Homo sapiens: one gene and its partners. The protein of the gene in region 4 interacts with the protein of the main gene of each other region in a pairwise test. Each region holds a gene or a part of one and is shown on either strand. Other genes may lie near its edges. The genes, in order: CWF19L2, ZNF35, CAMSAP3, FSD2, PPP1R18, HDAC4 and SPATC1L.

Region 1 (4,291 bases), on a different chromosome or scaffold from region 4:
TATCCTTATTTCCAGTTAACTCCTCCTATTTAAGGCAGATCTTGCTCTAAAGATTTTGATAACTCTTTCTGTTCCTCCAGGACCTTGCTCCATCAATTATCTTCTCCTCTCACGGCATTAACCAAAGATCCCTAATGGCCTAGAAACAATTTCAAGCATTTCCCACCCTTTTTTTTTTTTTTTTAAGGAGGGAAGGGGGACCTTCCTTGACCCCGTATATTCCTCCTCTAGCAGGAATTAATCTTCCGGCTTCCATTCTCAGATGAACTTCTTGAAAGAGTAGTCTACATGCACCGCCTTCACACTCTCACTTTCATACATTTTCTCAAAACTCTACAATACATCTACTGTCCCCATTAATCTACTGAAACTTCTCCAAACTCACCAGTGGCTTCCACTGTGCCGAACTCAACAAAACGTTTCAGTCTTCAGCTCTCTAGACCTCTCTGCTTAATGCAACTCTGTTGATAACTCACTTTCCTGGCTTCCATGACACCTCTCAGCTCTCCTCCCACTCTGTTTCTTCTCCATTTCCTTCATGAACTCTTCCTCCTTTGCTTAGCCCTTAAATATCTTGTTATTTGGGATTCCATTCTTTGCCCATGACATTTTTCAATGTCTAAACATTCCCTTTGGGCCATTAAATCCATTCTGATCGCCTGAACTACAATAAATTGTGCTGATATCTTTCAAATTTGTCTAACCAAAGTTTCACTGACTAATTGTCTACTGCAGTTGGATGGCATGCTAAACTCAGTAAGAACAGAAGATAAAGCTATCCTCTTCTTCTACAAAATCTACTTCTCCTTGTATAGTATTGAACTGAGTTATCTGGAACAACCAACCACCCACTTAAACCAAGTCAGAAACTCAGGATGATGTTACCTCACATATTCAAGCCTACCATTTTCATTTTTAAAATATTTATTAAATATACCATAGAGTGAATACATGATTACCATACGAGCCTACCTCTATCCCTGGCCACTACTGATTAGTTCAAACGTAGGTACCTGACCCAATTCACATCAACCTGAGCCATTCCACAGGAATCTGAAATCAGGTCTAAATGGGCTTATCTAAAACTAAGAAATGGGAAGGCATTGGGAGAGGCCATTTCTGTCATGAGAAATAGAAATCAGCAAAAATTTTTTAAAAACTAGAACTCAGGGTAGGGGAAATGAAAAATGGCAAGAAAATTGCAAAAACCATTCACAATTCTAATTCCAGCTATTCTTGAAGCCTAGCTGCATTCCTACATCTATATGTCTTATGAGAATTTTGTACTTTAATAATAAATCCTTTTTGCAAAATCCAATTTATATTTAGTTTCTGTTACCTGCAACCAAAATACCAACTAATATTCTCTTCTTTGATCCTTAAAGTAGCACCCCAGGCTGGGCGCGGTGGCTCACGCCTGTAATCCCAACACTTTGGGAGGCCGAGGCGGGTGGATCATGAGGTCAGGAGTTCGAGACCAGCCTGGCCAAGATGGTGAAACCCCATCTCTACTAAAAATACAAAAATTAGCCAGATGTGGTGGCGCATGCCTGTACTCCCACCTACTTGAGAGGCTGAGGAAGGAGAGTATCTTGAACCCGGGAGGCGGGGGTTGTGGTGAGCCAAGATCGTGCCATTGCACTCCAGCCTGGGGGACAAGAGCAAAACTCCGCCTTAAAAAAAAAAAAAAAGTAGTAGCCCTAGATCAGATCTTATCTCTCACCTAAACAACTGATTCCAGGAGACCTAATTAATCTCCTGGACTCATCTTTCCTGCTCCCCTTCTTTCTCCAACCCCTCACCCCAAATACATTTAGAGTAATATAAAGGGAACATCTGACCACCGTACTTCTCTTCTAGGGCTTCCCATTACAAAGACTGCTAGTTATCCCTCTTCTTTCCTACCAACAGAATCCCATTTTATTTGGAGAAGTAATGTACTTCCCATGCTAGAAAGTGAAGCCTTATGATCAAGTGTCCAATTAGATGTAAACAAAAGTATTTTATGGGACTTTCTGGAAGTCAAGTTAAGAAAAAAAAGAGCATCTTCTTTCCTGTTATCTGGACTAAGAGGCAATGCTGTAAGGATGATGGAAAAGCAAGACAATAGAAGCCTAGGTCCCAGAAGACCATACTAGCCCTAGACTGTCTACCTGACTTATTTCATATCAGAAAAAAATGAATTTCTATCTTGTATAATCAATGGCTATTCTGAGATTTTCTAATAAATGCAGCTGAACCCAATTAGATGATACATTCCCTACTGAATAAAGTCAAAGCTCTTGGTTTACAAGGCCCTATTAATTCTTACAGTTTCATCTCCATTCACCCCCTCCTCTTGTTTTATAATTTAGTACTATCAAATTGCTTATAGTTATATTTACATACATACACACATACTCACACTCATATTATCTCATACTTCCATGTCTCTGCTCTCGCAATTCCTTATGCATGAAATGCCAAGCACACCTTTATTTGCCTAATGCTTACTAATCTATCTAGTCTCAATTCAAGCATCATTTAATCAACAAGTTAGCAAATGAAATCCCTCTTAATACCCTGTACTACCATGGCATCATGTTGGATGGTATGCTAAACTCAGTAACAACAGAAAATAAAGCCAACATCTTCTTCTACAAAATCTACTACAAAATCATATTATTAATATTATGTATCTATTTATCCAATTAGGAAATGAGTTCCCCAAAGGTTTAAAAATATATTTTTATATTCCCCATGTCTAGAACAGTGTCTGGCAAAGAATAAGCATTTGATAAATGCAAGCTGAAATTAAATGAAATGTCTTTTTCTACTCTTTCAATAGCACTAGTCAGAAACTTTTAAGCAGCAACCTATACTCATTTTCACAATTATGCACTCACTCACCTTACCACTTCAGCAAAATTGATGCTCCCCATGCTACGACTTCAGTTCTCTTGCTAATTTTAGTTTCAATCTCCATTTTACCTTGAACTCATTAACTATCAAGCTTAATACGCCTCCTGACCTAACACAGCCTTCAGGGCTCTCCTTCTCTTGTGCAGCCTGCAGAATTAACCACACCTCTAATTCTATCTAGTGGTCAAAACCTAGAAGGTGGAACTAAGACAGAAAAGTGCTACCAGCAAAACTCAAGGGATCTTGAGGACTTCTGCTTCTGTCCTTGACAAAATAAATGGCATCAAACTAGAAATACATACAAATTGGAATAAAAATGAAACTACAATCTCTACAGCTTTTTATCTAAAGGCACTTTCTAGACTGTGGCATAGAGGGGTAACCCAAGCAGAACATGAAAATCTCACTGAGCAAAGGAAACGGAATTTGAACTTTGTGAAGGCTGAAACAAAAGTACAGATGGGAAGTTACACAGAGAAAGGGTGCCAGAAATCTACTTAAAGGACCCCTGGAGTCTTTAAAGAAAGACCAAGCTGAACATGCTGAGGATGAGAGTCCACAAGGTCAGGCAAAGAAAAATTACCATGGAGAAAACAATTACCAAAGAGCTGTAAGCAGAACAATCCCCAGAGCTCACAAAGGGCTGGAAGACATTCTAGTTCCTCCCAACCAGAATAAAGAAACCTCGCTGAACATCCATGACAATCAGCAGAGAACCCACAAAGGTCATGCCTTAGTAGAAAGGCTAAACCAGTCCTAGAGTAAAGCTATTCTAGGTGCATACGAACAAAACTTAAAAACAATCCTTGAAAAGGATTAAGCTAATTCACAAGTAATTAACTGTATGCCAAAAGGAAACTCAATACTCTCTGAAGAAGTCAACAAAATCCAGCAGTCACAATATAAGTTTCATAGGGTTCAGCATCCAATTAAAAGTTACTAGACATTCAAAGAAGCAAGCAAATGTGACCCATATTCAAGAGAAAAATCATTTAATTGAAACAGAACAGGAAAAAACAAGAGAAAATGAAACAGCAAACCAAGACTTTAACACAGCTATCATAAATATGTTCAAGGAAGGGAAAATGTAAAGATAATGAGGAGATAAACTGAAAAACATTAGAAAGATCCAAACGAAACATCTAATGATAAAAAAAAAATACAGTACCTGAAATGAAAATGTCACTGGATAGGGATAACAGTAAGCTAGACACAGCAAAAGAAAAGGCCAGTCGGCCAGGCGCAGTGGCTCACACCTGTAATCCCAGCACTTTGGGAGGCTGAGGCAGGCAGATCACGAGGTCAGGAGATCCAGACCATCCTGGCCAACATGGTGAAACCCCATCTCCACTAAAAATACAAACAATTAGCTGGACGTGGTGATGAGCAC
Region 2 (4,872 bases), on a different chromosome or scaffold from region 4:
TGTTTTAACAAGAACCCCTAGGTGATTCCTATGCACATTAAAGTTTTAGAAGCTCTGGTTAGCATTGTCAAAACCTGACTGAAATTACCTGAAGAGTTTTAAAAAAACATGGATACCCAGGTCCCACCCTTAGATTCTTTTTTTTTTTTTTTTGAGGCAGGGTCTCACTCTATTGCCCAGGCTAGAGTGCAGTGGCATGAATTCGGCTCACTGCAACCTATGCCTCCAAGGCTCAATCAATCCTCCCACCTCAGCCTCCCAAGTAGCTGAGACTACAGGCACGTGCCACCATGCCAAGCTAATTTTTTGTATTTCGGCATTGCAAAACACGAGGTGTGCAATGTTGCTCAGGCTGGTCTTGAACTCCTGACCTCAAGTGATCCTCCCGCCTTGGCCTCCAAAGTGCTGGGATTACAGGTGTGAGCCACTGTGCCTGGACCACGGATTCTGATTTAATAGGAATAGAATACAGTATGGACATCAAGATTTTATAAAAAGCTCTCCAGGTTCTGTGTAGCAAAATTTGAGAACCACTGGTTTACAGAAAGTACTGAATGTCACATCAATCAGAAGGGAATGTTTCTATCCTATTACAAAAGACTGGAAGCTAGAATTGTACCCAAGAAATAAGACTCCAGGTGTGGAAGCAGAGGGGCAGAGTCCCCTCTTAAACTACTTGAGGTCTTCAAGTATCTCCTCCCCTCTTCCTCTCAGGCCCCCGTTTACCTTTTCTTCCTCTTCTGATCCATCAAGGCCTGTCTGAAGACCCTGCACTGGGGCCCAGACTTTGATGTTCTCGGAGTGCACTTGTTGGCTGGATGCCTGACCTGGGAAGTTTTCTTCTTCTTCCTCCTCCTTTTTCACCTTCACTGGGCCCCATGGGGCTAGGGCCATGGCTTCTCTCAATTCTGCAGTCATCTTCTCTGCTCAGCAGGGGAACTCCTATAGCTGGGCGCTGCCCTGCAGAGGTCAAACCCCATCCAAGCTTTATGTTTCAAAAGCTTCTTCTTGAGTTTCTTCCCAGGGCCAAGATGAGTACTGCCTACTGAGAAATCAGAAAACACTGTTAGCACCAAGGAGAGATTTGCTGGATGCCACTTAGCAAATTTGCCGGATGCCACACCGGCAAATTTCACCAGCGCCTGGCCAGGGGCCAATGTAGGACATGGAATCCTCTATTCCTCCCTCATAGGATGAAGGGGTTGGACTATAAATATGTAATATCTTCCCATAATAACCACATTGCAAACAGCTTTATATAATGTTTATTGATTTTTTCCTGATTAAAAGTTAACTTACTTTTATTGTAAAAACTTAAAAGCAGCAAATGATTAAGAAAAATCATCTCGGTCTACCTCCAAAGAGATAACCACTATACATTTTAAGATTTAAGATATTTCTTTCAAAGGAAAATCTCCAACCATACTACTAATAATTATGATTTTACAAATTCTTGTTTTTGACTTTGGGGATACATATTTTCACAATTATCATCATAGCATTTTTTAAAAAAGGATTTTACAACAAAAAGATTTTTTATTGCCAAGGATACAAAATAATGTGAACAAAAGGATCCCAAGAAAAAGACTGGGAGTCTTTATACCAACGTGTTAGCAGTGGGTAGTTAACTCTGGATGGTGTAATTACAGGTAGTTTTAAGGTTCTTTTCATTTTTTTTGTTTGATTTTTACATTTTCCATAGCTTCCAAATGTCCTGTGAGATAAAATATTACACTTAAGATTTAAAAAAAGATTACTTTCATGTTGCCATTCTTCATGCTTATTTTAAATGCTACACAATAACCTATGGTGTTGATAAATCTTCACTCTCATTGAAAAAGGATCAAGTAATACAGAAATATATAGAATTAAATATATAACCTACACACACTACACACACACACACACACACACACAAAGTACTTATCAGTTTAGATGGGAGTCCTAACCCATTTTCTCTGCATTTACATACTTATATGTTCACCTTCACACATATTGCTTATTTTTCAAAAACATACTTTAGATCATCACAGTTATATACTGTTCAGCAACCTGCATTGTTTTTTAACTCAATTTCCGTATTTCACAATAGTCTTAACAATCTTTCAATACAACACATATAGAACTACCTCATTCTGGCATAGTATTCTAAATTGTGGCTATATTATCATTTACTTAATCATATTCTATTTATGAACCATTTATTTAGTAAAAGTTTATATTTCCATTTTATTAATATTTAAAAGTTTTTCTTTGTAAATATTTTTTTTTTGCTGAATTATTCCTTTAGAATAATCAGAGAATTACTGGTTCAAGGATTTGCTGGTTGATATGTACTGTCAAATTGCTTTCCAAAAGCACCATGCCAATTCACACCCCCACTAATTGACAGTAACCCTTTATCACAGCTAAGCCAGCAGGGTTTTTGTTTTTAACCTGTGAGCAAAATAACCTTACTAGTTTGATTGCTTATGAAGAGATTGAAATTTTTCTTTCTAACCCCCTTTGAATGTTTTATTGGAAAAGGGTGCGAAATCTTATTCAATCCCCTGTTGCTGCTATTGAAGTGATCATACTCTTTTCCCCATGTCAACTTACTGGCCACTTACTGTATACACTGAATTTATTAAGTAATGCAATACTTTCATTCCTGTGACAAACCTTAATTCTGGAGGACTATTCTTTCCATCACTATCCGAATTCAATCTGGTATGAAGGTCCTTAAGACTAGTTCCACCTTGTGTATAAGACTGCCTACAGTGAGTACTCTCATCAGACTTCTGATCAGATTCTGACGGACCTCCGGTCCCAGACGGCACAGGGCCCTCTATCAAAGGCTCCCTTTCAACGTCCTTTCTCTATTTCCAAACGTGGCAATCCATTCTTTCCACGTATAGGCTCCTCGCGGCCCTGTCCCTGGGACCTATCTGGCCCCTTGGCCGGTCCGTGTGCATCCTCTCCCGGACCAGGCCCCAGGTGGGCAGCAGCCGGGATTCCGAGGCGGTGGGGAACTCACTGCCCCCCGCACCCCGACAGACAAGGCTGGTGTCCCCGGGGAAAGGACGCAGGGGCCGCTCCTAGGGCCATGGCCCCTGGGAGAGCCCCTTTTTCTCCCTCGACGTTCGTGCCCACCCCCTCCGACCCCACTCACTGTGCGCAGCTGAGAAGCCCGACCTGAGTTCACTGGCTCTGCAGCAGGAGGCTGGCTGACCGGTACTTCAGCTTCTACCGGCACGAGAACAATGACCGGACAGGAAGTGCCTCGGGATGGGCTTCCGGCTCCCCAAGTCGCCAAGCCGGCCTCTCTAGGAACCTCGGAGGTGCTTTCCTCTCGATGGGTGTCCAATGTCGCCCCAGACCAGGGATGGGGCAGAAGCGCTTAGGAGGATTGTGCTGTTGGAAGCTCTAAGTGAGCCTCAGGGAGGGGCGCATCCCAAGCAGGGATGAGACACTCAGGCGAGGCGCGCACCCAAGAGCCTGAAGCTACACAGCATTAATCTGTAGAAAGCCCTGATAATTTCCCCTCAAATGTTTTATTTTGAAAATATCAGAGTACAGAAGAGTTGAAAGTATGGCACATTGAATACCCGTATTTTCCATGTGGACTCAACAATGAACATTTTGCTATGTTTGCCTGATCTCTCAATACATATTTAAAATCATTTTTTTGAAAGTTGTAAACATCAGAACACTTCATTCCAAATACTTCAACATGCATCCCTTAAGATTAAGAATATTCTTCAAACTACCACCACCGTCACAGGTAAGAAAATCAACAAAAATTCCCTAATACCATCTAATAACCAGTCATATTCAAATTTCCCAACTGTCCTAAAACATGTATTTTATAACTTTTTTTCAAATCAGTTTCACACACTTTAGTTGGTTACAGCTCTTTAGTTTTGGGTTTTCGTTGCCATTGTTGGTTTTTACTTTTTATTTTGAAATGATAGAATCACAGGAAGTTGCAAAGATAGCACCCTTCACCCACTTTCCCCTCATGGTTACATCTTACATAAAATGAAAAAGGAAATCAACATTGGTACAGTATGTGTGTATAGGTATAGCACCTATAGATTTGTGTAACCACCACTGCAATCAAGATACACAAGTGTTCCATCACCACAAAGACCTTTCTGGTGCTACCTTTTAATAGTTCCATCCAACCCTCTCCCCATTTTTCCTCCCACCATCCCTAACCTTTGGCAACCATTAATCCATTTTTCATCTCTATAGTTTTATCATTTTGAGAATGTTATATGAATATTTTCATACAGAATATGGCCTTTTGTGATTATTTTCACTCAGCATTAATTCCCTTGAAATTTATTTGAGTTGTTATGGATATCAATAAGTCAATTTTATTGCAGAGTAACAAGTATTCCATGGTAATACATAAACCACAATTTGTTTTAACCACCTAAGGAAGGATATATGGGTTGCCTACAGGTTTCGACCATTACAAATAAAGCTGCTATGAACATTCGTATACAGGTTTTTGTGTGAACGCAAGTTTTCATTTCTCTGGGATAAATGCTCAGAAGTGCAATTCCTGAAGCATGACATATACATGTGTGGTTTTACAAGAAACTGCCAAATTATATTCCAGAGTGGCTGTACCATTTTACATTCCCAGCAATGTATGAGATCCTGTTTCTCTTCATCCTTGCCAGCAGTTACCACCATTAAAAAAAAAAAGTTAAGCTATTCTGATAGGTGATATCTCACGATTTTACTCTGCATTTCCCTCATGCCTAATGATGTTGAACATCTTTTCATTTGCTTATTTGCTATCTATACTTCAGTGAAATGTCTGTCTTTTGCTTATTTTCTAATTGTATTTACTTATTACTGTTAAATTTGGAAAGTTCT
Region 3 (4,291 bases), on a different chromosome or scaffold from region 4:
TTGCAGGAACAAGCTCAGGGCTCCCACTGGTTCCCCATGATGATGAGTTGTAGAATTATTTCATTCTATGTTACAACGTATTAGATATAAAGTACATAATAAAGATTAACGTGCTTGAATTATCCCAAGACCACCTCCCTGCCTCCATCTGTGGAAAAATTGTCTTCCACAAAACCGGTCCCTGGAGCCAAAAAGTTGGTGACTATTGCCTTAGGCCTTTGCATCTTTCTAGAACACTCTCCCCCAAGACCTCAGCTCAAAAAGCTTTTCCGGGCCAGGTGTGGTGGCTCACACCTGTAATCTTAGCACTTGGGGAGGCTGAGGTGGGAGGATGTTTGAGCCCAGGGATTCAAGACCAGCTTGGGCAACATAGCAAGACCCCATCTCTATTTTATACTTTTTTTTTTTTTTTTTTGAGATGGAGTCTCGCTCTGTTGCCCAGGCTAGAGTGCAATGGCATGGTCTTGACTCACTGCAACCTCCACTTCCTGGGTTCAAGCGATTCTCCTGCCTCAGCCTCCTGTGTAGCTGGGATTACAGGCGCCCGCCACCGCACCCGGCTAATTTCTGTATTTTTAGTAGAGACGGTTTCACCATCCTGGCCAGGCTGGTCTTGAACTCGTGACCTCGTGATCCACCCGCCTCGGCCTCCCAAACTGCTGGGATTACAGGCGTGAGCCACCACACCCAGCCCTATAATTTTTTTTTTAATAAAAAAGAAAAAAGAGTTTTTTTAAAAAAAGCTTTTTCTGACCACCCATTGCCTTTAGGACTACCCAGTATGCAAAAAGTACTTCTGGGCCGGGTGCAGTGGTTCACACTTGCAATCCCAGCACTTAGGGAGGCCAAGGTAGGCAGATCACTTGAGGTCAGGAATTCGACACCAGCCTGGCCAACACGGTGAAACCCGTCTCTACTAAAAATACAAAAATTAGCCAGGCGTGGTGGCGTGTGGCTGTAGTCCCAGCTACTCAGGAGGCTGAGGCAGGAGAATGGCTTGAACCTGGGAGGTGGAGGTTGCAGTGAGCCGAGATCATGCCATTACACTCCAGCCTGGGCAACAGAGCAAGACTCCCGTCTCAAAAAAAAAAAAAAAAAAGTACTTTTGGATAAACTTAGTATCTTTCTCTCCCAGCTAGAGCCGTCTGTGAAGTGGGGAGTGTGTCTCTATTCTGGCTGGATCCCCAGTGCCTAAAACAAGGTCTGGCACACAGTCCACACTCCATACGTTTCATCTGCTGCAGGAATGAACTCCTGGAAGCACAGAGAGGTTTATATACTTGTGTGAGGTCACAAAGCTCATTGGGGAAGAGAGAGACACAAACTCAGGCCTGCCAGTTCCGGAAGCTGCCCTCATGACCACTGCATCGTTGCTGGTCTCGCGGACCTGGGGATGGAGGGTCTAGGGGCTGGGACTTAGGATGCCCAGCTCCCCGGCACAAGATCTGTTCCACATCCATTTACTCACCCTCAAGTCGAAGCAGCTGGGGACAATAGCAGTGGATGGTGGCGGCCAGCGCGGCCCCACTGGCCAGGTCCTGGAGGCTGGTCACCGTCGGGAAGCAGGGGGCACGTCGCGCCACCACACGGTCCTTGCGGTATCGGATCTGCAGATGGGAGCCAGGTCAGGTGAGTGGCCAGGCTGGCCCCCAGGGTCAGCGGTCATGCAGGCTGGGCAGGGAGGCCTGGGGTTTCCGCCATGAGGGGGCGGGAAGCTGGGGGTCCCAGAGACAGAGTTGGGGGGCCAGCCTGGAGCAGGGGAGGGGCAGCAGCAAGAGGCAGAGGAGATGTCTTCGAGCAGCCAGGCCAGCAGCGGGGGCTGGGGACAGGGACTCCTGGGACCCCGGGGCGGGGGATACATTACCATGGGGGGTTTGCTCCCCGACTCCTTCAAACAGAAGGCAATTGCGTGCTGGGGGGAGAGGAGCAGCCATCAGCAAGGGGGAGGGGTGCTGACCTGCTGGGCCCCCAAGCCCACCTTGGGGGGGAGGGGGTAGCCCTGACCCTGGTCCTGAGCCCCGGCCGTCCAGCTCCCTGACTGCTCTGGCCGGCTTCGCGAACCCCAGCTCCTCCCAGCCCCAAGGGACCCCACAGAGTAGGAACCCCCTCTTATGCGGGGAATCCTCCTCCCACAAAAGACCCAGGCCCCCAGCTTGGGGAGAGGATGCAGAGGAAGCGGGTAGGCAGGAAGGGAACCTCCCAACCCAGGCCCCAGGGTGGGGGAAGGAGTGAGCAAAGGTGGGGACGCCAGCCAGCCCAAAACCTCCCCCACTTCCTCCTTGTTTATCTACTATGGGAGTAATTTATATGAAGCACAGAGAGGTTTAGATACTTCTGCAAGGTCACACAGCTCATTCAGGGAAGAGAGAAATTTCAACTTCCAGCTTCAGGGATGGGCCTCCTCCTCCTTTTCAAAGCTGGGATTTTTCTCTAGGGAAGCTGGGGGTCTCAGTTAGGAAAGTTATTCTATCTTCTTCTGCATTGGAGGGTCTTCCCCTTGGCCAGAGGGTGCCCTGCCTGCTAGGGTCAGGATCCACGTTTGTGATGGGCTGCAGGTCCCCCCTTCAGAAATTTATGTGGTCTCCCCACCTCGGCTAAGGGGGACAGGTTCAGGGGGTCCCACCCTCTTCATTAATGGGAACGGGGAGGGCTTGCCCTTCTGAATAACGGGAGGGGAAGTTCGTCCCCACCCATCAGTTCGCTGGGGGAGGGGTCTGCCCTCTCAGTTAATGGCCGAGATTCTACCCTTCTCTTGGTTCACAGAGGGGTTCTCCCTGTCTCCCAGGACTGGGGTCCAACCTCCTTTGCTCACAGCTTGGGGAGGTATGAGAGGGCGCGCAGACAGGCAGGCAGAAACAGACATACAGACAGACAGAGCTACAAGCAGGGCAGGCAGACGGGGCGGACAGACAGCCCCACTTACAGGAACCAGCTTCCAGTACCAGCGCGTAGGGCACTGAGGCCAGAGAGGCAGAGAGGAGGGCAGCGGGTACCGGCACAGGGGACGGGCAGGGCACAGAGAGATTGAGAGAGGGGGGAAGAAAGAGAGAGTGTGTCACCTCTAGCCCCCTCCCCACTTCAGGAGTGTCCAGGAAGCACAGCCCTGCCCTCCCAGATCTCCGGTCCCCCATCCTTCTGACGGTTCTATGCCCTGGCCTCACCGAGGGCTGCGCCGGGGCCGCCCCGTCTGCAGGGGCTGCTGGAGAGGCTCGCTGGGCCGCTTCCTGCTCGGTCTTCTCCTGCAGCCGCCGGACGGTCTGGAGGGCAGGGAGGGGGTCAGTGGTCTGGCCACTGGACGATGCTGGTCCCCGAACCCACCCCAGGCCCAACCCCACCTACCGTGTCCACCCAGAAAAGCAGCTTGTGCTCCAAGCTGGTCAGGGCCAAGGGACCTGGCAGGGTCTTTGTCCACTCGAAGGCAAAGGCAGCCATGAGGGCATCAATGACAGCTAGGTGGGCTCCCTGTGGGGGCAAGCGCTAGAGGGTGAGACCTGAGAGCTGCAGGAGGCGCACCTCGGCCCCCAAGGGCCTGGGAAAAGGAAGAACCTGCAGATGGGAGGGACTTGACGGGGGGGGTGGGGCTTGAGGGGGCGGGGCCAGTGGTTCATGGGTGGGGCCTTAAGGGAAGGAACAAGAAATGGGGTCCCGGAAAAGCCACGCACGATGGGTGGGACTTTGAGGTCAGATGCTAGGCGTTAGGATAGGGTGGGCTGTGTACACAAATCCTCAAGGGCCAGAGTAGCGCCTTTTTGGGGAGCTGGGTTTGATGGGAGGGGCCAGGCTTGATGGGAAGAGCTTGAGGGGAGGAGCCAGGGCTGGGGGGAAGAGCTAGGCTTAATGAACAGAGCTTGAGGGGAGGAGCCTGGACTGGTGGGAGGAGCTAGGTTTGATGGACAGAGCTTAAGGGACAGAGCCAAGACTGATGATAGGAGGAGCTAGGTTTGATGGACATAGCTTAAGGGAAGGAGCCAAGACTGATAGGAGCTAGGCTTAATGGATAGCGCTTGAGGGGAGGAGCCAGACCTCGTGGGAGGAACTAGGCTTAATAGCGCTTGAGGGGAGGAGCCAGGCCTGGTGGGAGGAACCTGGGGGAGGAGCCAAGCCTGATGGGAGGAGCTAGGCTTAATCGACAAAGCTTGAAAGGAGCCAAGACTGATAGAGGGAACTTGGGAGGAGCCAGGACTGGCGGGAGGAGCTTGAGGGGAGGAGCTGAGCATGGTAGGCGTGGTCTAACAGGCAGTGGCGGGGCCTACCATGAGAATGGGCTGGTGCCTCAGGTCGGCCTCGCGCA
Region 4 (3,895 bases):
ATCCCCAGATTGTTCTGTGTCCCCTCCCACTCTTCCCAGATTAGAAGTCACCATGGAGCACTATTAGTAATGGGACTCTGTATCAGATCTTTAAGGTGTATTGGGACAGAAGAAAGGTTGATATTTTGGGGTTGTTTGTTTTTTTTGAGACGGAGTTTTCACTCTTGTTGCCCAGGCTGGAGTGCTATGGCGTGATCTTGGCTCACTACAATCTCCGCCTCCCTGGTTCAAGCAATTCTCCTGCCTCAGCCTCCTGAGTAGCTGGGATTACATGCGCCCACCACCATGCCCGGCTAATTTTTGTATTTTTAGTAGAGACGGGGTTTCATCATGTTGGCTAGGCTGGTCTCGAACTCCTGACCTCAGGTGATCTGCCTGTCTTGGCCTCCCAAAATGTTGGGATTACAGGTGTGAGCCACCATGCCCAGCAGGTTCATATTTTTAATGTTTCCTTCTACTCCCCAAGCACACACAAATTTGAAAGCTGCTTTGCTTTCTAATAAAGAGGCTTTTCCTTTGATTTTGGAAGATAATTTGATGTCTCTTTTCTCTTTGCAGGTATATGAGCTCCCTGAAAGCACAAAGCAGTTATTTCCATCTTCAGATCATTCAGAGATTATGAAGGCACAAACCCTGCCTTCAATTTGCTTATAGTCAAGTGGAGCAGACACAAGTCAATGATTGCAGTATAGCCACTGAAGTAATCTAAAAGAGGTGAGTGTGGCACTTAACCTCTCCTGGGAGGGGGAGGAATAAGGCAGTGTTTCCAAGAGGTGATTTTGGAGCTATACAGGCATTAGGTAGACAAGGAAGGGGAGGTCCATTCTGGGTGCCTAGGACTCTGTGGCTGATTTATAAATCGTAAATGGTACAAAAAACAGTGTTGAGTATCTTTTACCTTTCTCCAGAGTACTGTTCTTACTTTTGGATAGTGCTTCTTGTTTTTTCCTTCCCTCTCCCTGTCCCTGTCACCTTTAAATTAAATGAATGTTTGGAAGGAAGTAGGAGGGTAAGAATCTTTCTGGGTGGCAGAATAATAGATGGGTCTACCAAGAGCGATGTATATACCCAGTAAAGCCATCTCTAAAACTGTGTTTCTGCATTGTTACAGTGCATAGTTGGGAAATCTCAGTTTTGTTGGCTGTGTACTTTCCCAGTGAATGGATTATATTCCTTTCTGCGAGCCAGTCTGTTTGAATTTAAGGGCATCTCTTAAATTCCTTTCAAGCAAGAGACCTAACATTTATACTTAGGAATGAGAGTAGTAGAGACAGCAAGATTAGAATCCAAGTTCATATACCAAAACATTTTTATTTGCTATGTCTGAGTGACTACATGTTGTTTGAATCAACTGCAGGCTAATTTGTAACATTTCAAATAAATGATAGTTTAATTCCTCCAGGATTTGAGTAAGGTGAAAATAGAGCTAAAAACCATGATTCTGTCACAGTCTGGGAAAATGAAAAAGCAATCAATTAGTGAGTTGGGCTTAATTTTTTTTTTTTTTTTTTCTGGAACTGGTGATAGCAGAAAACAAGCAGTAAAGTAGTCAGACATGATATACTTGACAAGAACCACCACCTGTTCAGTAGCAACTCTAAAATAAGTACTAACTTAGGGGCAGTTGTTGTGCCCAGGTCATAGTCATACTCCTTCCAGGAGACTTCCTGATGACAGAAAAGATGCTGACCAGCTGGGGTCTTCTTTCCAAATAACTTTTCTCTTGCATTTAGATTAATTAACCATTGGTTACAGTGAAACAAGCATATGTACAGAGTTAATCTCCTATAGCTTGAAGTTATACATGATCTTTATTTGAGTATCTTGACTTGTTAAAGGACAGTGTTTTAAAAGCTGGATTTGGTTATGTTCTTCTGGAGACTAAGAAAATAGAGTCCTTGAAATCAAGCTGACTCTGCTTTTAGCCTCCTAAATGAAAAGGTAGATAGAACAGGTCTTGTTTGCAAAATAAATTCAAGACCTACTTATCTACCAACAGCAATTACACGCTTTCCATTGTCTTCCTATAGAAAATAGGAGTAGTACACTTATAGATGAGAAAACTGGAGAAAGACATAGTGAACATGTGAGAATCTTGCTCTACTAATTGATAGGAAGGTGACTAGAAATTGGCGAAGTTTTCTTGGTAAGTTGAGGAGAGGACTTTTCTTATAGTGCAGTCTGGTAGCTGAACCGCCTTGCATCAAGACCAATGTAGTCTTATTTACAGAATGCCACATCACAGTGAATTGTGCTGTGGACAGCTTCCAGTGTGTGAGTTGTGGAAGATGATGATTTTAACAGATTTTGGAGGATGAGAAGTATTAAGAAGAAGGCCCCACTGTCCATGCATTTGCTCTGCTTTTTACTTTTGACCAAGTATACACTTCAGAAATATCTTATTGGATGTATACAAAGTGATTGTGTGTCATTTGAACCAGCAGGAAGTAATTTATTAAACACACTTTTCTAAATAAAAGTCATTTAATTTTATCAGAAATCAGTGTCATTTTAGATTGCAAGTCTCAAACCAACTTTCCAATTCTGACTTGTAAGGGTGCCTTAAATCCTGAATACTGTACTCTGTATTACTAAACCCATGTTAGTTTACGCCAAGATTCTGTGGTGGTTTTACATATTCTTTTTCCCCTTTGTTAAGGTGGGGAGGCCACAGCTTATGTGAATGACTTTCTCAGGAGTTATAAAGTGATACAGGTAAAGCTAAGAAAAGAACAGATTTTGATAACTTTTGTTTTAACTGTCCAGTGTTAGGGATTGTGGCTACAGTGGTCTAATTTTTAAAAACTCTTTTTTTTGCTTTGTTTTTTAACAGACTTATCAGCAGGTTGCAGGTGAACATGGCCTTGAGGTAAATCTGTCCCTTGCTGAATACAGTTTCAGTAGATTGTTTATAGTAGTTTCAGGAATTGAGATTTTTTACAAAAATACAAAAGTTTTGCTTGGTTCTGTTCTAGATGTTTTCTTCTAAATAAATGAGAAAGATGTTTCAACAAAGGCTCTTTATGCTGAATAATTGTGATGCTTGAAGTTGCTAATCTGCTTTAAGTGGATTTTAAATGTCAGGCAATTCTAGACAGTTTTTTCTTGGTCAAATAAAAATTTAATTAAAACTTTATACGTGTTGAGTTTTTAATCCATTTATCCGTGTTCATACTAACGTGTAGTATTCCATAAAGCCTATTAGAACCCTGAATTCAAACTTGCCTTCTCTGTGATATCCTGTTTCTTACTTGGTAGTTTCTATTTCAGTAGCTGAGAACTTTTTTTTTTTTTTTTTTTGAGATGGAGTCTTGATCTGTGAGCCATCTCGGCTCACTGCAAGCTCCACCTCCCGGGTTCACGCCATTCTCCTGCCTCAGCCTCCCGAGTAGCTGGGACTACAGGCGCCCGCCACCAGTCCCGGCTAATTTTTTTGTATTTTTAGTAGAGACGGGGTTTCACCGTATTAGCCAGGATGGTCTCGATCTCCTGACCTTGTGATCCATCCACCTTGGCCCCCCAAAGTGCTGGGATTACAGGCGTGAGCCACCGCGCCCGGCCGAGAACATTTTTAAATATACATGATATGTATCTTTTAATTGTTTATAACTGGAACTATTTCTGTGCTTACATCTGCTGTCCCTTGTTTCAGAGTAGACAGTCCAGCTTGGCAGGATAGGTGTGTGTGTGTATAACGAGTTATTAAATTGTCAGTGTGAATTGTTAATTCAGGAATCTGAGCTGCCATTTATACGAGTAGGCAGAGTTTAGTAGGAGATGAGAGTCTTTCAGTTTGTCAGACTTTGCAGGTGCTGGAAAACATCAGAGGTTTTTTGTTTGTTTGTTTGTTTGTTTTTGAGACAGAGTTGCGCTCTTGTTGCCAAGGCTGGAGTGC
Region 5 (4,814 bases), on a different chromosome or scaffold from region 4:
CCCTGTCCAGAACTCCCACTGTGCTCCCTGGCCAGTGCCTGTTCTCAAAACTGTCTCCAAATTCACTTCTCTCTTTTGCTACCCTAAGGGGAGGGAAAGTCCAGGATGGCAGGAAAAGAGGGGAAAACCGATCCCTGAGCCAGTTCTTGGGAGGGAGGGGAAACCCAGGGAGGAAGGACAGGGGAGTGAGGGGCGGGGGTATTTTGGAAGAGGAGAAGGCTTTTCTTGTCCCAAGAGAGAAGGGAGCACTGTCTGAAGCAGTGGCCCAGCTGGGGGTGTGCAACCCCGAGGTCACCCACTTCAAATGGCCTCTCTGTGTCTCTCCCATGGGGCAGACTCGGGGTTCAAAAGCCTTCTCTCTGATCTTTGGCCGGCCCGGTTCCATCTCCCCTCTCCCCTCCATCCTAGGATGTCCCTATTCAGCTCTGCCCTCCTTCCCACGGGGCAGTTGGACCTTTCTCCATTCACTTCTCCCTGCAGTTTCTCCCTAGAACACAAACCCACCCCACCCCCTCCACCACCCCAGGCTCCCTATCCCTTCTCCCCAGAAAAACTGCAAGTGCTCTCACCCTGGTGACCCTGCCCTCACTGATTCAAGCTCGTCACTTTAGGCTCTCCCACTGGATGGGCTGGGGCAGGTCACACTCAGGAAAGGAAGGAAAGAAAAGGGGGTTGGAAACTCAGAGCCCAAGGGAAGGGAGAATGAGCAGCCTGGCACACCCTGAAAGAGACACACCCAGAGACAGCCTTTGCTGGGGCAGGATCTTTTGGGCTCAAAATGGAAAAGGAGGGCTCTGAGAAGGAAGGGTGTATGTGCAGAGCGAGGAAGGGTGGTGGCAGGAATTAACAAGAAAGAATAGAGGAAGACAAGAAAACAGGGGTATAAAAAAGAAAGAGACCAGAGTCCAGAGAAAATTGACAAGTGGACTTCTAAGAAGTCTGGCTTGGCTGCTTCCCTACCTGTTTGTGGTGTCTTTCGGGGGACCCCTTGGCAAGGCAGCTGCGGCTGAGACGGAGGTAGCCCCCCAGAACCAAGATCTCCTCGGCAGTTGGGTACCGCTTCTTCCCAGCCCCCGGGACTGCAGCATCAACTGTGGCTGGAGAGGTTGGGGTGGCTGGGGTCGCAGGGGGCACAGACCGCCGGGGGTTGACGGTGAAGGTGTGTCCACTGCGGCGGGGGGCCCCCACCCCTGGCCCTGCCTTCACCCCATAGAACAGGCGGCTCATGAGGGGATCCCCAGGAGGTTGGGGGGCAGTTGGGGCTGGGGGTGGGGGAGACAGAGGGGCTGGTGGTGGGGGCTGGAGCTCCACTGCTTCCTCTTCCTGCTGTCTCAGGCCTCCAGTCCCAGCGTCCTCTGGTGGGAGGGGGGAGGGCACAGAGCAGCAGTTCTGCAGGGCTCTCAGAGGCCTGCCCTGAGCCCCCGCCTCCTCCTTCTCAGCCTCCCCTTCTCCAGCCTCCACACCGGGAGATTCCAGAAGCTTCTCTGCTGACTCTGGAGGTTCTGGTTTCTGAGTTTGAGCCTCTATGTCCCTGGGTGTCCATTCTCGAGCCTTCCCGGAGTTCAGGGTCCATTTCCACCCTTCTGTTGGCTTCATGCCCCTCTCGCCATCTTCCACAGGCCTCTGCTCTGCTGCCTCCACTCCTGCGGAACTGTTGCCTTGGGCCTCCCTTGTCAGGGTCTCGGACAGCTCTGCAGTCTCTTTTGGAGCTACCCCTGGAACTGGCCACTCTTCTTTTCTCCCACATTCTTCCGAGTAGTCTTGTCTTTCTTCTCCTGACCTCAGCCTCCACTCTGTTGCCTCCAGTTGTACCAAACTCTGTTCCTGAGACTCTCTGGAGTCAGGTCTCCATTTATGGGCCTCTGTCAGGCCCAACTTCTGGTAGGCAGATTCCCCTGGGCTCAGTCTACTTTCCACCTCTTTTCTCCTGGGGCTTTGCTCTCGAGACTCTGCTAGTCTCAGACTCCGCTCTGGAGTTTCTCCAGGACTCAGCCTCCATTTCCATGCCTCTGACAGTCGGGAGCTCCTGTCTCCCACCTCTCCTGGGCTTTGCCTCCAGTCCCGAGCCTCCAGAGGCCTCAGGCTCAACTCTTGGGCTCCCCCTATCCCCAGCCTCCTCTCTCTGGTCTCCCTCGGACTTAGTCTCTCTTCTCTTGACTCTCTTCCCTTGGGGCTCTGATCCCGCATCTCCCCAGGGCTGGGTCTCCGCTCCCGGGCCTCCAGAGGCCCAGGCTTTCTCTCTGCTAGCAGCTCTTCACTCCGTTGTTGTTGCTGCTGCTGCTGCTGCCGCTCCTGCCGGATGAATCGGTTCTGGTGCACTGGCCCGATGGCCTCCAGAAGGACCGCAGACTCATCCGGGTCTGGAGGTCCAGCCTCTACAGTCCCTAGCACAGGGCTAGGCTCCCCAGGGGACAGCCCAAGCTTGGCCCGGCGGCGCTCCAGGAGCCCTCGTTTCCAGGCTGGCATCTGGGACAGGCGCTCCCGTTCTGCTTTCTCTCGGCCTCGAACGGACGCCTCCTCCTGCCGGCGCCGGGCTAGCAGCTGTAGCTTCCAGTCTGGGATGGTGGCCATGGTCGTCTTGAGGTGAGGGTAGGGAGCACTGGGGACAGAGAACAGGAAGGAGAGGCTCCAGAGAGTGAGACAGCCCGGGGGTGAGACTGAGGGTGGGAGGAGAGGAAGTGGAGGGGGAGAGGTGGGACACAAAGCAGGGCAGAGGGGCTAAGGATGAGGACAGAGGGAAAGACGGAAGGCAGAGAACTGGGGAAATGGAAAAAGTGAAGAGAAGTTGTGAGCCCAAGTTGGGGGTGGTGGGGGTGATGTGAGAGGAAGAGTCCGGATTGGAGGCAATGAGGGCAGGAGCCAGATGTGGCAGCACAGGGTTAATGCGTATTAAAGACCGTCTCTAGGATGTGAGAAAGAGAGAGAAGGGCGAAAAGGAAAGTTGGCGTGAGGGAGAAGAGAGAAATGTGGCAGGGGTGAGGGGAACCTGGGTGCAGGCCAGGCTGCCTCAGCGATACCCCAGGGAGGCTAGTGTGGGAAGGAAGGACCAGGAATCCCTGAAAGGACCAGGAGGCAACGGGACCTGAGGGGGTGTTGGGGAGGCAAGGAGGGGCGGAGAGCGAACAGGTCTAGAGGAGAAGGGAAACCAGGGAAGAGGGGAAAGGAGGGCGGCGGCAGCAGCCGGGCGCGTCTCAGCGCGGGCCCCAAAGGTCCCGGCTCCGCTTCCAGCACCGCTCGGGCCACGCCTCTCCCCAGCCCCCACCCCTCTGCCCCGCACTCCGCCCCCGAGGCGGGTCGGGGGAAATAGCCACCCCCGAGACTTTCGGAACCCGGGCGTCAGGGCTGCCAGCGCGTTCCCAGAACCCTGGCGTCCACCCCCACCCTGTCCTGTCACCACCGCCTGCCTCCCCCACCGACTGCCCCACGCGACCCCAGAGTGCCAAGGGCCGGCTCCATGTCTCTTCTCCCCGGCGCCTGCAAGTCCTGCGCCCCGTCCCCGCTCTCATGAAGCCGTGACAGAGCCGGCCGTCTCCACCCCGCTGTAGCCGCACAGACTGACAATCTCGGCACAAAGAGGAGACAGCCAAGGTCCGGGCCAGGGACGGGAGCAAGGACAGGGGCGAGGAGACACCCACTCCCCAAGTCTGAGCCCCTCAGTCAACTCACAGGCCGCGGGACCCCCGGGGGAGGGGGTGCGGAGGAGCCGGGCGTCCAGAGAGAGGAAGAGGAGGAGAGAGGGACCGAGGGAGATCCGGAGACTGGAGGGAGGGGAGGAGGGAGGGAGAGGAGGAGGGAAAGAGGCAGCAAAGGAGGAGGGACGGAGACAGAGACCAGGGGGCCGGGCGGGGGCGGCGACCGCTTTGTCTAAGGACAATGAGGAGAGGGAAGGGGGCGCAGGGCGGAGCCGAGGAGAGGGCGGGGCCTAGATCCCTCCCACCCCGCGTGGGACTCGCTGCGGGACTGCCCTCTTCTCGCCCCAACCACTGGTCCTCCGCTCTGTCCCCAGGGGCCCTCACCAGCTTCCCGCCCGGACACGCCAGGTGTCCAGATCCCTTCCCCCAGCTCGCCGACCCAGGGCGGTGGCCCGTGACTCAGGCCCCTCGTGGGACTTTGGGAGGAAGCGGCAGCTGCTCCGAGCGGGGCCCGCCCTTCCCATCTCCTGCCGCTCCTCCCTACGCTTTTGCCTTCTCATCTGGGTCTGTAGGTCCAGCCTCTGAAGTCCTTTGTTTTGCGGGGTCGAGGGCAGCCGCCAGGCTGTGGGGGGCTTTGTGGATGGGCGGCAGGAGAGGCGCTCAGAAGCCAGAGGTTTTGGATGCTCCCTCCCCTACCAGAGCTGCTGCCCCGACTCTTTCTAGCTTCAACCTGTCTCCCTTGGGTCTACAGGTCGGCTGCCGGGAAAAAGGGGATTTGAAGGAATGGGAATGGGGACCCGGCCGCTCTGGCAAAGTGGGGGCGGGTCTGCGGGGGTGGCCGAACCCCAGCGGTTGCCAGAGGGCGTGGTGGCTGCCCAGACTCCAGTTCGGTGCTCCCAGGCTCCCTCTGGCTTTCTTTCCCAAACTCAGCCCTGTAGCTTGGGAGACACTGACAGACTGCATGCCATATGTAGAAAAAGGCTGACTTTTATTTTCCTGCAGAGCATCTTCCTCGGGAGAGCAGGGAGCCCCAAGTCATCGAGTTAAGAGCAGGAGAATCCCCTTGACTAGGTTGGGGTCTGAGCCCAGAGGCAGGGCCTAAGGAGGTGCAGAGACTAGGGCCGGGAGTGGTGAGGCAAGGTTGGGGCCTGGAGGGACAGCTATGACCGTTGAACTTGCAGA
Region 6 (4,291 bases), on a different chromosome or scaffold from region 4:
CATGGTAATACCATCTTGGCCTAGAGGAACGGCGAACACTGTTGGGTGAATCACAAATCAGTTAGTGGCACCCTTTCTGCAGGACAATTTGGCAATCTATGTCAAAGGCCTTCAAAATCTGTCTAACCTTTGATGCTGGAGCTCCACTCTTGGGATGTAACGTTAAGAAATAAGGAGATGGCCTGATGCCCATGAAGCCTCCGCTGCAGGGCCGAGCACCCAGCAGGCATGGCAGAGCTATGCGGCTTCCCCGACACCTTGGTGTTAACAGAACGGAGGGGCATTGCACACCGGGATGCTCTGGGGGTTGGGAACGATCTAGCTGATTACTTGGACACTTGTTTATGATACATTAAGTTAGAAAAACAGGTTATAGATCATGTACCTTTTAAAGAATGGGCTTGGATAAAGCAAACACAAGCCAGGAGTAAAGATTAGAAGGCCACACAGGAAGAGTCAGCAGCAACAGTCTCCAAGGACTTGAACTACTGTGATATTTAACATCTTTTTGCTTGTAGAATGAACGTGTTTTGCTAAAAAGGACAATAGTTTATCACCACTATATCCCCTACACAGTAGCTACTCAAGGAATGTCTGCTGAATGAATGGGCAAACAAAGAGAAGGAATAAAATGTTGTTGTAATCATGCTAGTTAGTGGGGTTTGGCAGATAGAAATCCCCTTGCCAGAAGCTAACGTTAATAATGAATAGATAACAGATTTCATTATACTCTCTACCTCCATGACAGCAACGTTTTTAGCTCCCCCAGATGAATGAGAAAATGCCATGTTTGTCTTTCTGTGCCTGGCTTAGTTCACTTAACATGAGGGCCTCTAGTTCCATCTATGTTGCTGCAAATGTCAGGGTTCTATCCTTTTTGATGGCTGCATGGTATTCCACTGTGTACAGCACCACATTTTCTCTGTCTATTCATCCACTGAAGGACACTGAGGTTGATTCGACCTCTTGGCTATTGTGAAAGATCCATGGCTAAGACCTCAAAAGCACAGGCAACAAAAACGAAAACAGGCAACTGGGACTCTGCTCAACTAAAAAGCTTCTGCACAGCAAAGGAAGAGAATCACCAGAGTGAAGAGACGACCTGTGGGAAGGGGAAACATGTGCAAGCCATTCATCCGACAAGGGAGCAGTATCCAGAACATGCGGGAACTCCAGCAACTCACCAGCAAAACCTGAAGCAGCCAGTATAAAAGTGGGCCAAGGATCTGAAGAGACATTTCCCCAAAGACATATGACTGGCCATTGGGGATAGGAAGAAACGCTTCTCCTGACAAACACTTACACTCAGGCTGTTCCTACAGAACAGAAAGCCCGGCCTTCTCACTTAGGAGCAAACTCACGGCGCACCTCGCCCCAGAGGAAACCCTGCAACTCCCTTTAGATTTGCTCACATATTACATTGTGTAAGGAATGATTAAAGGGCTACTGAGGAAAACATTTTTCCTAGGCAATTTTTTTTTTGTCAAAAGTTAAAGAATTATCAGTAAGTTATGCTGTAGAGGAAATGCTTGTGTTATCATTTGGGAACAAAATAAGGAGACGTTCTAATGTTTGCAAAGTTTTCATTTCCTTTGTAAGCAAGGTTTTTTTTAAGCCCATTTCTGGAACTAAAGGAGGCTTCTGAGAATTTGTTCCTTGGAGATGCCGACTGGTCCACCTGAGAAATCGCAGGGCGTTCTGGCATCTGCTGCCTCGGGGCCGAGCCCTGCGGGAGGCATTCTGAGGCTGGCGCCCCCGGACCGCATCTCAGCATGTGCTCAGAGGGAAAGTCCGCGGGCCTGAGGTCAGAGCATCCAGGCACGCGTGTAAATAACAGCAGCAGCGGCCACAGAGGAGCTGTCCCCTTACGCACCTGGGCGACTTCCTCTCACTCTCTGAGCCCTGCCTCCTCCCTGTAGAGGAGGTGCCGGCACACTGGGCTTCCCTGGCCTGTAGAGGAGGAGGTGCCGGCACTCTGGGCCTCCCTGGCACTGTAGAGGAGGAGGTGCCCGGCACACTGGGCTTCCCTGGGTCCAGGGGGCCTTCAAGGTACAGTAGTGTTTCTAGGGACCCCAGGGTGAACAGAAAAGGCAGTGCTGAGAGCCAGGCTGGGAGGCCCCTGCTCCCCCCACATCCTCATCCACTCGAGACACCCCCTCTGACGGGCAAGCTCACTACACTCTGCACCACGTGAGAACGGAGAGCCAGCCCCTGGCCATGAAGCACAGGTGTTCTCACAGACCCGTCCAACTCTAGAGATACTGAAACCCAGAAAGGGCGCCTGGGTGTGATCCAACATGCAAAGGCTGCCCGTGCCCACTCTAATGAACATCTGATGTGGAACATGAACAATGGCACCTCTTGGTATTTCCTGTAACTCCTTCTACATGTTCTATTAATTTCCAGTAGCTTCATTTACGTATCGTGATTTCTAAAAATTAACACAGAACTGGAATGATGCAGACCCACCCAAACAAGGCACTGTTCCAATATTAACTACCATGTACATAAGTGCCTCATTTTAAATAAAAACATGTATCTAGGACCACAATCAACAAGATGCAACCAGTGTTAACCTCAGGGCAGGAAGTAATTTCTAGGTTGCATTATAAGGCTTATTACTGGTAGACCTCAGCTATGACCACAGCCATACAGAGGACTGTTAAAACTTCTAATCATCTAAATAAGTACTGAAGTTGGCAGGCTGAAGAAGACAGGTAATAAAAGAAATCGATGTATGAAGTAGAAAGAGTAAGAGAAATTGGGGATTAAGCAGCCTGGAGACAAAGGGCAAAATTCGTTCTGAGCAGTAATTCTAGTCTCTAAAAATGTTTATACATAAACGGTCTTGAAATTTGAAATGAAAATGCTAAACACTCATGCCTCTGTATCCCAGCTAAGATTTGCCAATCCTTTGGAAGGGCAGGATTCATTTCTAAATATTTAAGAAGGAAAGTCAATAACTATATTTAATAAATTATAGCCTTCTGTAAGTTGGAGAGAATTCAGAAAGAACCTCCCACTCAGTAGAACTCTGCCCCATGAAGCAGACACAGCATTTCCAGCTCAACTCATCAGAAAACTCACTGCTAAAGCGTACCCCTCCCACCCCTGCCCTGCAGTCAGGCCCACCCAGGCCCAGGGCACCACTCAGCCTGCGGGACTGCCTCTCTCTGCCTCTCTCTTCTTCCCCGTGCTCTGGGGGTGGCCTCTCCTTGTCAGTGGGGCATTGTGTGGAGTGTGGGGCAGGTCCTTGCTGCCTGCCTGGTTCTGTCCCTGGGCCTGGCACAAGGCGCTCGGGACACGTGTGGGATAAAGGCAGGGGGCGCAAAGGAGCTCAAGGAACACGGAGCGAGGTCCTCGGACCTGCTGCCCTGGAAAGCCTCCGAGTATGGTCAGTGTGCGACTCGGCCAGCCTGGGCGCCACTCCTCCCTGCCTTGCCACTCAGCTCCTGCGTCTCTGACATCTTTCCCACCTAGGGACTCCAAGCGTCCCCTGACTCCTCTCTAGCTTGCCAATGTCCCTCCCAGACTGTGGCACCACTTGGGGTCTGATGAAGGCAGGGGACCAGGGGTGCTGAGCTCTGCGGTCTGAGATGCCTGGTTCCCGTGATGCCTGGAAAAGTTCCCCGCTCTGTGGCTTTGGCCGGCCCTGCCATGCTGACCACGGGTGACGCTCCAGTCGGCCCTGACACATAGTTTGTTGGCCGACATCGTGTTGTGTATTTCTCAATACAAAATAAAAAATGTTAAGTCTCACTTAGCAACTATACCCACGTGCCCACGGCCTCTCAGCCACCCTCAGAGCACTGGCGACCACAGCGAGCTGGGCAGCAGGGATCCTGTCCACCTAGAGCACCTGCCATGCGTGGGCTTGTGCTGGGACACCATCTAGTGACATCTGCTCTGGAAGAGGTCAGGAGAAAGGACCAGGCTCAGGGCTGTCCCCGACGTGCCTGGAACTAGCGTGTTCATAATGAAAGGAGATGTCTGTGATGAGAGGAAGGCAGGAGAGTAACCTCCAACTGCGTCCTTTTTAGGATGGCTCACAGGCCACTTTCCCTCACCCCAAATTGGAAGGTGAAGAGTGAAGGGCAAGTGCAAAGTGGGGTCATTTCAAGCTCATCCGTCCCGAGTCCGACTCTAGCCGTAGGACACAGGACAAACGCTTCGCACTGACCTCCGCCGGGATGCTGGGGACGGCGGGCGCGATACCGTTCTCCGCGCTGACGCTCCCGGAGCTGTTGTTGGGTGAGCTGGGTCCGGAGCCTGGGGCGCTGCTGCACGCGGA
Region 7 (4,291 bases), on a different chromosome or scaffold from region 4:
AAAAGGCTCAACATCACTGCTTATTAAAGAAATGTAAATAAAAACCACAATGAGACACCATCTCACACCAGTCAGAATGGCTATAATTAACAAGTCAAAAAACAACAGATGCTGGCAACGTTGCAGAGAAAAAGAACGCCTATACACTGTTAGTGGGAGCATAAATTAGTTCAGCCATTGTGGAAGACAGTGTGGCGATTCCTCGAAGACCTAAAAACAGAAATACCATTCAACCCAGCAATTCCATTACTGGTTGGGTTCCATTAATGGTACCCAAAGGAATATAAATCATTTTATTATAGAGACACATGCACGCATATGTTCACTGCAGACTATTCACAATAGCAAAGACACGGAATCAACTTAAATGCCCATCAGTGGTAGATTGGATAAAGAAAATGTTGTACATAGACACCATGGAATATTATGCAGCCATAAAAAAGAAAGAGATCAGCCGGGAGCAGTGGCTCATGCCTGTAATCCCAGTACTTTGGGAGGCCAAGGCAGGTGGATTACCTGAGGTCAGGAGTTCGAGACCAGCCTGACCAACATGGTGAAAACCATCTCTACTAAAAATACAAAATTAGCTGGGCATGGTGGTGCATGCCTGTAATCCCAGCTACTTGGGAGGCTGAGGCAGGAGAATTGCTTGAAATCGGGAAGCGGAGGTTGCAGCGAGCCGAGATCGTGCCATTGCACTCCAGCCTGGGCAACAAGAGTGAAACTCCATCTCAAAAAAAAAAAAAAAAAAAAAAAACCAGAATGAGATCATATCCTTTGCATGAACATGGATGGAGCTGGAGGCTATTGTCCTCAGCAAACTAATGCAGGAACAGAAAACCAAATGCCACATGCTCTTACTTATAAGTGGGAGCTAAACAACGAGAACACGTGGACACATAGAGGGGAACAACAGACACTGAGACCTACCAGATGGTGAAGGGTGAGAGAAGGGAGAGGATCAGGAATAATAACGAATGTACTAGGCTTAATACTTGAGTGACAAAATAATCTGTACAACAAACTCCCATGACACAAGTTCACCTATGTAATAAGCCTGCACTTGTACCCCTGAACTTAAAAGTTTTTTAAAAAAGAAATACATGGCCAGGTGCAGTGGTTCATGCCTGTAATCCCAGCACTTTGGGAGGCCGAGGTGGGTGGATCACCTGAGATCAGGAGTCCAAGATCAGCCTAGCCAACATGGCAAAACCCCATCTCTACTAAAAATACAAAAAGTAGCCAGGCATGGTGGTGTGTGCCTTTAATTCCAGCTACTGGGGAGGGCAAGGCAGGAGAATCGCTTGAACCCAGGAGGCAGAGGTTGCAGTGAACCAAGATGACACCACTGCACTCCAGCCTGGGCAACAGAGCCAGACTGTGTCTCAAAAACAAACAAACAAAAAACCATTTACTCCTGCCTTCTGAATCAATGATTCTATTTTTTAAAAATAAATCCAGCTGGACAGTGGCTCAAGCCTGTAATCCCAATGGTTTGGGAGGCCAAGGTGGGAGAATTGCTTGAGCCCAGGAGTTTGGGACTGGCCTGGGCAACATAGGGAGACCCTGTCTCTACAAAAAAAAAAAAAAAATTTTTAACTAGCCGCTCATGGTGGCAAGCACTGTAGTCCAAGCTACTCAGGAGGCTGAGGTAGGAGGATTGCTTGAGCCCCAGAGGTCGAGGCTGCAGTGAGTCATGATCATTGCCACTGCACTCCAGCCTGGGGAACATAGACCCTGTCTGAAAAAGAAAAAAACATAATGGGCCAGGCACGGTGGCTCACACCTGTAATCCCAGCATTTTAGGAGGTCGAGACAGAAGGATCCCTTAAGCCCAGGAGTTCAAGACCAGCAACATAGAAGATCCCATCTCCATAAAAGTAAAAAAAATCACACACACACCAAAAAAAGAAATCCAATGGAAATAACCTTAAATATAAAAATTCTTAAAACCTTTTTTGTGGTGCTATTTACCTCAAGGGGAAGAAAAACTTTAATTTCAAACTGAGGGAGAATTCATTACATTGTGGTTCATCCGAATCGGCAATATTGCAGGGCCATTTTAAAGTACACCTAACAACACAGGGACAATCTTCTGTCATGTCAGACGGAAGGAGTGACCAGGAGTTGCACATAGAGAATTCTCACCACTGTTGGAAATCATCTGACAATCCACCACCAACAACTAGGGAGCGAGTGGGCAATCTGGGGGGGCCTGGCTGTCCTCCAGGGGACACCTCTCCAGTGGAGACACGGCGAGTGGCATCGTGGCCGTGCTGGAGGGACCAGGACAATCCCGAGGGAGACGAGATGGGGCAGCTGGGAGGGGAGGCAGAGGACTGCTGCTCCCACTGGCCCTTCGCGTCACTCACTTGTAAACCTGGGTGAGAAGACCTGGAGACCTCGCTCCCCAGCTGACGGGGACAGATGAGCCCTCCTGTGACGTGGGAACGATGCCGGCGCAGTGCCCTCCTCCTCCATCAGTGGGGTGTAGGGACCGTTCAGAGAGCGTTTGACAGTGTCTGTTTCAACATTTCAAATGCACACAGCCTTTGACCCGAGGACCCAGGTGTGGGATCCCCTACACAAAGCCACAGGGCGCCTGCGCAGGCCACCCACGGCGGCGGCGTCCACGGTCGCAGAGAACTGGGAACAGTGCTGCCTGCCTGGGGCCCCCACAGAAGGAGCCCAGTGTTCAAGTGTGCCGGGGAGATCTGCAGATAAGGACTGGTGGGGAATGCCGCGAAATGGATCGTTAAGGGGGAAAAGTCAAGTTGCGGAACAGCACAATCCCGTGTAGGTGGACCAAAAAGATACACAGACAGACACACAGATCTCCACTAAAGTTCCAGAGAAAACCCAAGAGAACGTTGATTGTGGCTGCCTTTGCGGAGGGGGCCGGAGGCGTGGCCTGAGGCTTAAACGTTGCACCCTCCATGGCGTTTATAAGTTTACCATGAGCACGTGTTGTTGAATCCGTAAGAAAAGCAGGTTTTTACTCATCCTGTTTTGAACACAGATGCTAATGAAGTCTTGGCAACATGCAGACATTGCTGGTGGTGGTTCCTTTGTTTATAAACTTCTCCTTTTTTGCAGAAGCTCAGTGCTGGTCTTCCCAACCCCAGTTCTGCTGAGGGCTGGTCCTGAATGCAGCGTCCCACAGCCCCAGGTACATTCCCAAGCACATGCTGAGGCCCAGAGCATTAAGGGTGCACCACACGCTGCCACTCAAGTGGCAGAGTTTAGAGGGTGGTCTTGTCCAGGCCCCTCCCCGCTGCCAGCCCGGGCCACACTGAGCCTGCCCCACACCCTGTGGCGGGGGCTCCAAGGCCCTCTGTGGAAGGCCTGCTGGCCTCAGGTTGAGGCTCCTCCCAAGACCCGTGTCCAGCAAGACCTGGGTTTGCCAAGATGACCCAAGGGCAGGGGCAGCAGCCGTGGTCATGGAGACCCCGCCCGGACTCAGCCCCTGACAAGGGTCCCTCTGGGGACTGCACAGCCTGGGCAAGGGTTGAGGGTCTGCCCCTCTCCTGCCAGGGGAGGCACCAGCACTCTGTCCAGCCCTGAGGTCCGGCCCAGGGTGATTCCTTCTTGAGGAGGAGGACAGCAACGCAGCCCGGGGCACGCAGCCTGCGGCGGTCCACACACGCCAAACAGATTAAGGGCCCTTTTGCAGCCACAGTGCCCGGGCCTCACAAGTGCTGTGAACGGGACCCTGCACGTGGCCCAGCACCGTAAGCGCAGGTCTGCCCAGCAAACGCCCTGTGGTGAGCGTGGGGCTCAGTGGCCGCTGATGGAGACGCAGAACCTGGGGCCTCGCACAGCATGGCCCCCAGGCGCCAGGTTCCCCAGCCACACTGTCCCCGCACATCCTGGCGAGGTGCTCTCCTCCCAGCTCCCTGCGAGGAGCCCCTGCCTGTCACCAGAGACCAAAGGTGTGGGGACGATGCCATGGATTCCCCTCTTTGCTTCCAGACACGCTCGCTCTCAGGCTTGTCCATGGAGCTCCGAGCAGGGCCTGGGGCCTGGCTGCGGAGAGTGCCTCCTGCACACTGCGCCTGCTCAGAGTGCACATCTGAGGGTGGTGGCCAGCGTTTGAGAAGGACTCAGGAAGCAACCTCCCCCACCCCCAGCACAGGTGCTGGAGCGGCCCCTTGGTGAGTGGCAGAGCTGGCCTCCCGGGCATGGCTCGTGCTCGCAGACAGCAGTGTTCACGGGCACTGGCGAGGCTGCCTGCTCCATCGTCCAGGACCAGGCAGGCTGACCACGTCCTTTCCGGGCCCGGCCCGGTGGG

The links.
Region 1: the proteins of FSD2 (region 4) and CWF19L2 interact in binary tests that used the Homo sapiens proteins (3 or more experiments, as listed by UniProt).
Region 2: the proteins of FSD2 (region 4) and ZNF35 interact in binary tests that used the Homo sapiens proteins (3 or more experiments, as listed by UniProt).
Region 3: the proteins of FSD2 (region 4) and CAMSAP3 interact in binary tests that used the Homo sapiens proteins (3 or more experiments, as listed by UniProt).
Region 5: the proteins of FSD2 (region 4) and PPP1R18 interact in binary tests that used the Homo sapiens proteins (3 or more experiments, as listed by UniProt).
Region 6: the proteins of FSD2 (region 4) and HDAC4 interact in binary tests that used the Homo sapiens proteins (3 or more experiments, as listed by UniProt).
Region 7: the proteins of FSD2 (region 4) and SPATC1L interact in binary tests that used the Homo sapiens proteins (3 or more experiments, as listed by UniProt).

What each region holds. Positions count from the first base shown.
Region 1 is NC_000011.10:107,443,929-107,448,219, forward strand, and holds part of CWF19L2 (CWF19-like protein 2), read right to left. Parts: intron 1-4,291.
Region 2 is NC_000003.12:44,647,114-44,651,985, reverse strand, and holds the start of ZNF35 (zinc finger protein 35), read right to left. Parts: upstream 3,255-4,872; 5' UTR 3,152-3,254; intron 1,046-3,151; 5' UTR 919-1,045; coding exon 727-918; intron 1-726. UniProt on the Homo sapiens protein: May be involved in transcriptional regulation. Involved in cell differentiation and/or proliferation.
Region 3 is NC_000019.10:7,605,442-7,609,732, reverse strand, and holds part of CAMSAP3 (calmodulin-regulated spectrin-associated protein 3), read right to left. Parts: coding exon 4,254-4,291; intron 3,463-4,253; coding exon 3,340-3,462; intron 3,258-3,339; coding exon 3,162-3,257; intron 2,957-3,161; coding exon of another isoform or gene 2,924-2,956; intron 1,913-2,923; coding exon of another isoform or gene 1,865-1,912; intron 1,608-1,864; coding exon 1,469-1,607; intron 1-1,468. UniProt on the Homo sapiens protein: Key microtubule-organizing protein that specifically binds the minus-end of non-centrosomal microtubules and regulates their dynamics and organization.
Region 4 is NC_000015.10:82,754,071-82,757,965, forward strand, and holds the end of FSD2 (fibronectin type III and SPRY domain-containing protein 2), read right to left. Parts: 3' UTR 1,292-3,895; downstream 1-1,291.
Region 5 is NC_000006.12:30,683,448-30,688,261, forward strand, and holds the start of PPP1R18 (phostensin), read right to left. Parts: upstream 3,199-4,814; 5' UTR 2,600-3,198; coding exon of another isoform or gene 2,572-2,599; coding exon 961-2,571; intron 1-960.
Region 6 is NC_000002.12:239,135,504-239,139,794, forward strand, and holds part of HDAC4 (histone deacetylase 4), read right to left. Parts: coding exon 4,181-4,291; intron 1-4,180. UniProt on the Homo sapiens protein: Responsible for the deacetylation of lysine residues on the N-terminal part of the core histones (H2A, H2B, H3 and H4).
Region 7 is NC_000021.9:46,177,500-46,181,790, forward strand, and holds part of SPATC1L (speriolin-like protein), read right to left. Parts: intron 1-4,291.